2 separate regions of the Homo sapiens genome follow, and region 2 is linked to region 1. The links come from fine-mapping of genetic effects on gene expression. Tissue or cell type: whole blood. Region 1 holds a variant in brackets; the other region holds the start of a gene. Each region is shown on its reference strand, or each on the opposite one.

Region 1 (4,393 bases):
TTAACTTTTTATTTTTTGTCTGAAACAACTTTCCATGTAATTGTCTAGCTCCTCCCAGTTTGGTCACAGACTACAACTCTTGCCTGATTTCATCAGCTTCATCTGCACGAAAAAGTCCCGGATATCCCATAAAAGTCCACAAATTTAAGGAGGCTCTGCAACGACATTTGTTTCCAGGTATTCCCTCTTGATTTCAACTTAGGGGACTATTTGTTTTCTAAAATTGAGTTGGGAGGTGTTAGTAGTAATGAGTTCAGGTGTTTCTCCTTAGGGAAGGTCAAATGAAGGACTTAGCGACATAATGATCCTGAAATTTGAAATATATATATTATATATATAATATATATATGACTGAAAACAAGGGTCATATATATACTTATTTAAAATAATTATTAATATTTATTATTAATTTATTATATAATTATTATATATAATTATATATAATATTTATATATCTATATATCTGACCCTTGTTTCCAGTCATCTGATTCCCACTATTACTATTTCTGTGTGCCTTCCAACTTCTCATAACATATGGCTTTTGTTTTCCAAATTTGAGAGTGCAGGGAATTTCTCAGGTCTCAACCATCAAAAAACTGCCCCTAGCTTTCCAATGCAGAAGGAGCCATTGGGTTATCTGAACTTCTTCTAAAGCAGGGTTTCTCAACCTTAGCACTATTGTCATTTGAGTCAGATAACTCTTTGCTGGGGGAGGGAGAGCCCTGTGAATTGTAGAATACTTAGCAGCATTCCTATCTGGTACCTACTACATACCAGTAGCTCCCCTCCAATTGTGACAATAAAAAATTCTCAGGCCGGGCATGGTGGCTCATGCCTGTAATCCCAGCACTTTGGGAGGCCAAGGCGGGTGACCTCAACTGAGGTCAGGAGTTTGAGACCAGCCTAGCCAACATGGTGAAACGCTGTCTCTACTAAAAATACAAAAATTAGCCAGGTGTGGTGGCATGTGACTGTAATCTCAGCTACTCCAGAGGCTGAGGCAGAAGAATCACTGGAACCAGGGAGGCAGAGGCTGCAGTGAGCCAAGATCACACCACTGCACTCCAGTCTGGGTGACAGCGAGACTCCGTCTCACAAAAAAAGAAAAAATTTTCCAGACATTGCCAAATGTCCGTGGGGATGGGGGAGAGTTGGGGAGTAAAACTGCTCCTGATTAAGAATCACAATTCTAAAGGAAAGCTCTTATTTTCCCAAATGCACCAGGTATCATTTTTTTCTGCAACGTTGCAGGAATACTTACCACATGCTTTTGTAAGTTTTGGTAACATCTATTCCTTGAATTTTCAGTGACACAGGAAGAGGTACAATTTAAACCAGAATCCCTCTGTAAGAAGCTGTTCTCAGATCATAAAGAACTGGAGGGTTTAATGAAGACCCTGATACATCCTTGTTCTCAGGGGATTGTGATATTTTCTAGAAGCTGGGCTGGTGATGTTGGCTTCAGGAAAGAACAGAATGTCCTGTGTGATGCTCTCCTGATAGCAGTTAACAGCCCCGTGGTACTCTATACAATCTTAATAGACCCCAATTGGCCTGGAGGACTTGAATATGCCCGAAACACAGCTCATCAGTTAAAGCAGAAACTGCAAACTGTTGGTGGTTACACAGGGAAAGTGTGCATCATTCCAAGGCTGATACACCTGAGCAGCACACAGAGTAGACCTGGTGAGATCCCCCTGCGTTACCCCAGGTCCTACAGGCTTGCTGATGAGGAGGAAATGGAAGACTTGCTGCAGGCTCTGGTGGT[G/C]GTCTCCCTGTCCTCCAGATCTCTTCTGAGTGACCAGATGGGCTGTGAATTTTTCAACTTGCTCATAATGGAGCAGAGCCAGTTGCTTTCTGAGAGTCTTCAGAAGACACGTGAATTATTCATCTACTGCTTTCCAGGAGTCAGGAAGACAGCCCTAGCCATAAAGATCATGGAGAAAATTAAGGACTTGTTTCACTGCAAACCAAAAGAGATCCTCTATGTTTGTGAAAGCGACTCCCTAAAGGATTTTGTGACGTAAGAGTTTTACCAACTACACACACACAAAAATATGTATGTGTATATATATATGTGTATATATATGTGTATATATATGTGTATATATATATGTATATATATGTGTATATATATACACATATATATATATTCTTTTTGCAGTTGCAAGATTTAATAGAGTGAAAACAGAGCTCCCATACAAAGGGAGGGGACCCAAAGAGGGTAGCCGTTGCCAGCTTGAATGCCTGGGTTTATATCCCGATCATTGTCCCTCCTGCTGTGCTCTCAGGCAATAGATGATTGGCTATTTCTTTACCTCTTGTTTTTGCCTAATTAGCATTTTAGTGAGCTCTCTTTCTTATCTGATTGGTCGGGTGTGAGCTAAGTTGCAAGCCCCATGTTTAAAGGTGGAAGTGGTCACCTTCCCAGCTAGGCTTAGGGATTTTTAGTCAGCCTAGGAAATCCAGCTAGTCCTGTCTCTCAGTGCCCCCCTCAACAGGAAAACCCAAGTGCTATTGGGGAAGTTGGCCGACCACCGCTCTAACTGCTTCCTGCTGAATTGGGGCGTAGTAGGGGTTCTGCAGTTGAGATTTCCTCGGGAGGGGTGCCTTTGATGTCATTAACATTGGAGCATGGGCTAGCAGGCCGGTCCAGGGGTCCGTGGTAGATTTTACTCATGGATTGCATCTGGGGCTCCATTTGAAGAACCATTTGTAGCTTTGCAGCTTCGATTCTGGAAGAGACAAACTTAACAAGGAGGTTAAAGATACAGGGTCCAATTAACAAGGAGGTTAAAGATACAGGGTCCAAAGAGGAGTAACAATATTATAGCTGCTAGAGGTCCTAAGAAGGGGAGAATCCGGGGCATCCATTGGCTGAGGAGGCCCCAGGGGCCAGTGTTTTGAAGCTCCTCTGCTCTACGTTGTATTCGATCTCGAATTTCTTTAACTTTTTGGTGACGATTCCGGATTGATTAACATAATAACAGCATTCTTCCCCTAAAAATAAACAGGTTCCCCCTCTTTCGGCGGCTAGCAAGTCTAAAGCTCTTCTATTTTGAACGACTACTGCTGCTAGGGAGTTAAGTTGATCTTGCAAGGTGACCAGGGAGTCAGAGACCCGTTCCATGTCACCATTTAGTTCTTGAGATAGTTTGTAGTAGAACTGAATAGAGGTTGTGATACCGCCAGTGCCAGTACCTACTCCACCTAGCACTCCTGCTCCGATAACAAAAGGAAGAATGGGTACCCTTTTGTTGCGGGGCTTAGGTACGACATGATTGTATAAATCTTGTTCAGTGTAGATGGTCATAGGGGGCGCTAAGAATGAGAGGAAGCATATAGATTCTGAAGAGCCATTCAAACAACGATAGGCTGAGGTACCACAGACAAAAAATATTCCTGAGGGTAGGCAGACTATTCGTGTGGGAAGAGTTACCCACCTGATGTGCTGGGAGTTGGTTGCACACACACACAAAAATATATTTAGTCAGTCTTTTCAAGAGTGTCACAAAAGTGATTTGTGTTTTTAGTTTAAGTTTTTGCAGTGCCTTAGTTGCATAAGTGCAAGAGCCCAAACTATATACACATTTCCAAATAATCATGGAATTGAGCTGTAAACAGGTAATTTATAATGTTCAACCTTAAACATCTCATTATAAATAACCCACATGTGCATAACTTACATTTACAGAACCAGAAACTTTTTTTTTTCTCACAATCCATGGCCTTACATTTAAGAGAAGTAGAAATGAACCCATTCTGCTTTAAGTATACTTTCTGTTTGATATGTAATGTTTTAAAGTCATAGGGTATTTCTGCTAATTAGACATTGTACCTAGTGAAACTTGAATTTAAATACAGTTTGATTTTGTTCATAAAATATTTTCATTTTTGACTTGTTCTGCATCAGTAATTTTAGAAAATATGCAAATTCACTTCTGATTTAAATCTCTAACTTTTAATTTAGTAAAATGAATTGGTCATTATAGAATTCAGCAAAAGAGGGCAAAATCATTATGATTTTTGGCTTGGTTTTGTTATTCAATAAATCTTTTTGAGCACTGTTGATGTGGTATCTACTGTGCTACATTTAGTGTTAGAGGAGAAAACATATTGAAGACCTTGCCATAAAAAAAACAATGTGAGTATTGTATAATAATAAAGACATGCTCATTTTAATTAACTAATTAATTAATTTATTTTTGAGACGGAGTCTTGCTGTGTCAACCAGGCTGGAGTGCAGTGGCACGATCTCAGCTCACTGCAAACTCTGTCTCCTGGGTTCAAGTGATTCTCTTGCCTCAGCCTCCCGAGTAGCTGGGATTACAAGTGTGCATCACCACGCCTAGCTAATTTTTGTATTTTTAGTAGAGACGGGGTTTCACCATGT
Region 2 (4,393 bases), not on the chromosome of region 1:
ATAATCCCAACAGTTTGGGAGGCCAAAGTGGGAGGATTGCTTGAGCCCAGGAGTTCGAGACCAGCCTGGGCAACATGGGGAAACCCCATCTCTACAAAAAATATAAACATTGGGCCGGGCGCGATGGCTCACGCCTGTAATTTCAGCACTTTGGGAGGCCGAGGTGGGCAGATCACAAGGTCAGGAGATCGAGACTATCCTGGCTAACACGATGAAACGCTGACTCTACTAAAAATACAAAAAATTAGTCGGGCATGGTGGCAGGCGCCTGTAGTCCCAGCTACTTGGGAGGCTGAGGCAGGAGAATGGTGTGAACCTGGGAGGCGGAGCTTGCAGTGAGCCGAGATTGCGCCACTGCACTCTAGCCTGGGCTACACAGCGAGACTCTGTCTCAAAAAAAAAAAAAAAAATTAGCTGGACATGATGGTGCACCTGTGGGCCCAGCTACTCAGGAGGCTGAGGCAGGAGGATTGCGTGAGCCCAGGAGATAGACATGGTTGCAGTGATCTGAGATCGTGCCACTGCACTCCAGCCTGGGTTTCAAAGTAAGACCCTATCTCAAAAAAAAAAAGGCAGAGATATAAGTAAACTAGTTTGGGAAGCCGAGGCAGGCAGATCATGAGGTCAGGAGTTCCAGACCATCCTGGCCAACATGGTGAAACCCTGTCTCTACTAAAAATATACAAATTAGCTGGGCATGGTGGCGGGTGCCTGTAGTCCCAGCTACTCAGGAGGCTGAAGCAGGAGAATCGTTGGAACTTAGGAGGTGGATGTTGCAGTGAGCCGAGATCGCGCCACTGCACTCCAGCCTGGCGACAGAGAGAGACTCTGTCTCAAAAAAAAAAGAGAAAGAAAAAAAAAAAAAAGGCCAGGCACGATGGCTCATGCCTGTAATCTTTGGTACATCGAGGTGGGCGGATCACGTGAGGTCGGGAGTTTGAGACCAGCCTGACCAACATGAAGAAATCCCGTGTCTACTAAAAATACAAAGTTAGCCAGGCATGGTGGTGCATGCCTCTACTCCCAGCTACTTGGAAGGCTGAGGCAGGAGAATCGCTTGAACCTGGGAGGCAGCGGTTGCGGTGAGCTGAGATTGCGCCATTGCACTCCAGCTTGGGCAACAAGAGTGAAACTTCTTCTCAAAAAACAAAAACAAACAAACAAACAAAAAACCCAAGTAAACTAGTTATGAAGTGGACGTTCATCAACTTCATTGTGCCAAGACAGCTAAAGGGGGCACCTGGTCTTGCCTTGGGGAGGTTGGGAGGGCTTCCTGTAGGAGGTAACCTGGGAACTCCAACCTTAGAAGTGATCTCCAAAAAGCCAGTTACCACCTCCATGATAGCTACCTCCAAAAGCTGGTGTCTGACTCATCCATCCATCCATCCATCCATCCATCCATCCATCCATCCACCTACCCATTTATTGAGCTTCTATAGATGCCAGGCATGGTTCAAGGAGGTGCTGGGTACAAATCAGGTAAAAATCTCTGCCAGGATGAAGCAGAGTGAGGGATGGTCCCTCCAACCACAAGCAAAATAATGACAAGATAATTCTGGAAGGAGTAACTGCTAGGAAGGAAATAAAACTGAGTGAAGGAGGGAGAAGTGTCCCGGTTTCAAAACAAGATCCACAAAAACTTAGCTAATCAAGGATGCCACCTTCTTCCCGAGCCATGGGGACCTTATCACCCTCCAGCAGACAGTGCATAGAGGAGGAACTCCTCCCAGTGGCCCTGCTGGCTCAGTCGCCTGCGCAGCAGTAATCGAGCGCCTCCAGTATGCACCAGGCAACCTTCTAGACATTAAACTGTGTGGGGGATGGGAGGGAGGTTTCTGTATGCCTTTGGGCACGTCACTCCTCCTCAGGCCCTCAGGTTCACTTCTGTAACTAAGGCTTCAGGATGGGTCATTCAGCAACCCCAGAGCTGCCCTGCCCGTCAAGCTTGAACTCTTTAAGGAAATAACATTTAGAGTGGACTGTGCCCCCAGCAGCCCCCAAGGTGAGAGTGCATAGATGGGGGTGTTTATCCCCATTTCGCAGATGGTCAGGATGAAGCTCAGAGGAGAGGCAGGAGTCGCACAGGCTGCGCGATACTGACCCGTGTTGGGGTCCAGCCCAGGGTCCCCCGCCCCCGCCCCAGCCCCCGCCCCAGCCCCCGCCCCAGCCCCCGCCCCAGCCCCAGCAGCCGGGAGGCTTCGGTCCCTTTAAGAACGCCCCGCGGGGCCAAGCAGGAAGGGGGAGGTGCCAACGCCCGGGACGGACGTCTGCATGAGCCAACGGGTGCGGCAGTCGCGGCAGCGGCGGCCAATGGGCACGGCAGGGGCGGGGCCAAGCGGCCGAACCTGGTTCCCGAGGCGCGGCGGCCGCGGCTGGGGGCGGGGAGGGGGGCGCAGGACCCCAAGTGGGGGTCCCGGAGCCAGAGGCAAGTGTCCTGGGGTGCTGGGGGCGCCGTGCCGGCCGGGCCGCTGCCCTGGCCTAGGCTGGTCCGGGGGCTAGCGCGCCGGGGGCTGCGGCCGATGGGCGGGGCGAGGGGCCGCGGGGGTGGCGAGCCGGGGGGGCACGGGGGTCGGGGGTGCCCGAGGGGGCGCGGCCGGGCGGGGGTGGCCAGGGATGGGGGTCACTGGGGGCAAAGGGGATCCAGTGGGGGGGTCCCGATGGAGGCGTGCAGGGCCAGGGGCGCCCGAGGCGTGCGGGGGTCGGGTGCCCCAGACTGGTGGCGTCAGACAGGCGTGGGTCGTTGGGGGCCTGGGTCGCGGCTTGACTGAGGGCCCGGCCGGGGCTGTGGGGCGTCAGGAGAGCGTGGGGTGTTATGGGATCGGAAAGGGGGGGGCGTCTGGGGACACTGGAGTGTTTACGGCGAGACGGAGCGGCTGTGGGGGGAGCTGGCCCGTGCTGGGGGCGGTGGTGGTTGGGGTGGGGGGTGGGAGGGGAGGCCGAATTGTGCGGGCGCGGGGAATTATGGGGGTGGGGGCTGGGAGGGTCTCTCAAAGTGGGGCTCCGAGCCCGGGAGGAGCAGGCAGGTGAGGGTTAGGGAGGGGATGCGGCGGGCTGGTTTGATGGCTGTGCCACACTCTTCTGAGCTTGGGGCCTGGGGGACGGAGGGGTTGGTTATTGGTTCAGGAGGTCTGGGGCAAGGAAGAGGCTGTAGAATGTGGTGGGACCTCGACCACTCCTGGAAAGGAGGCTGCTTTGAGGGGGTGGGACCGAGGCCTGATGAGAGGAGGATGGTCTCCTGGGGAAGGATTTGGGCCAGGGTCCCTGATGTTGGGGTTGTGGGGGATAGTGTTAGATTCAGAGTGTGGAAGGAAAAAACGCTTGGGGTTTCTGGGTGATTACAGTTGGTGCTTTTGGGGAGGGTCTCCCCTTTGGAGAAGAGGCTGGAGGTGGGAGGCCCTGGTAAAAGATTCAATTTCCCCCAGTGGCCTTAGAGGCTCTAAAAATGGCTTCCCTAAGGCCTCGGAGGCTGTCCTCTCCACAAAAATCCCAGCACCCTTCGCTCAGCTTATAATCAGGCAAAGCCACAGGGCCTGAAGCCCCAGGTTCAAATCCTCCTTTGGCCTTTGGCTTTCTCTGTGACCTTGGGCAAATGCCTTTGCCCCTCTGGCCTGTTTCCTGTTCTGCAAAATGTTGAGGGGAATCTTCCCTACTTCCTGGAGTATTTGTAAACATTAAATAATAATTAGCTCTAATAATGGCTAACACTATTTGAGCCTGATGCCAAGGGCTTGATGCATGGGTTAATTTCTCCCAACAAGCTGGGGTTGTTGTTACACCCACTGTATAGATGAGGAAACTGAGGCCTGGAGCCCTTGAGTTACACAGAAAGTGATCGGCAGTGTGGGGAATCAGTACAGTGGAGACTTTGAGGGGCTGTGTAGGATTCTGACCCACATCTCTGCCCCCCACTTCCAGGGCCAATTCCTGTCCCCCCAGCAGCATGGCATCGTGTGCTGAACCCTCTGAGCCCTCTGCCCCACTGCCCGCCGGGGTCCCACCGCTCGAGGACTTCGAGGTACTGGATGGGGTTGAGGATGCAGAGGGTGAGGAGGAAGAGGAGGAGGAAGAGGAGGAAGAGGATGACCTGAGTGAGCTGCCACCGCTGGAGGACATGGGACAACCCCCGGCGGAGGAGGCTGAGCAGCCTGGGGCCCTGGCCCGAGAGTTCCTTGCTGCCATGGAGCCCGAGCCCGCCCCAGCCCCGGCCCCAGAAGAGTGGCTGGACATTCTGGGTAAGGAGCAAAGGTGGATCAGGGTGCCCTTGGCCCTGGCCCTCTCGTCCCCTGAGCCTCATTTCCCCATCTGTGCTGTGAGGGTTGGAAGTCACGTGGTCACCACCGTGATCACCAGCCAGAGGCAACTACTGGAGATGCTTCACATTGATGTACTCTAT

The links. PIP is the estimated chance that this variant, and not a neighbour inherited with it, causes the effect.
Region 2: FKBP8 starts here. The variant in region 1 is fine-mapped to the expression of FKBP8 in whole blood (TOPMed, PIP 0.93).

What each region holds. Positions count from the first base shown.
Region 1 is chr17:35,550,360-35,554,752 of GRCh38, reverse strand. SLFN14 (schlafen family member 14) reads left to right here. Exons shown (of 6, transcript NM_001129820.2): 4 at 49-177; 5 at 1,309-2,023. It overlaps LOC107985033 (a long non-coding RNA gene), which reads right to left and starts at 1,548. Exons shown (of 2, transcript NR_138032.1): 1 at 1,262-1,548; 2 at 1-155. The variant G/C (reference allele first, on the strand shown) is at 1,769.
Region 2 is chr19:18,541,518-18,545,910 of GRCh38, reverse strand. It overlaps FKBP8 (FKBP prolyl isomerase 8), which reads left to right and starts at 2,338. Exons shown (of 9, transcript NM_012181.5): 1 at 2,338-2,425; 2 at 3,916-4,232. The coding sequence starts at 3,941. RefSeq lists a silencer at 2,093-2,522 and an enhancer at 4,085-4,393.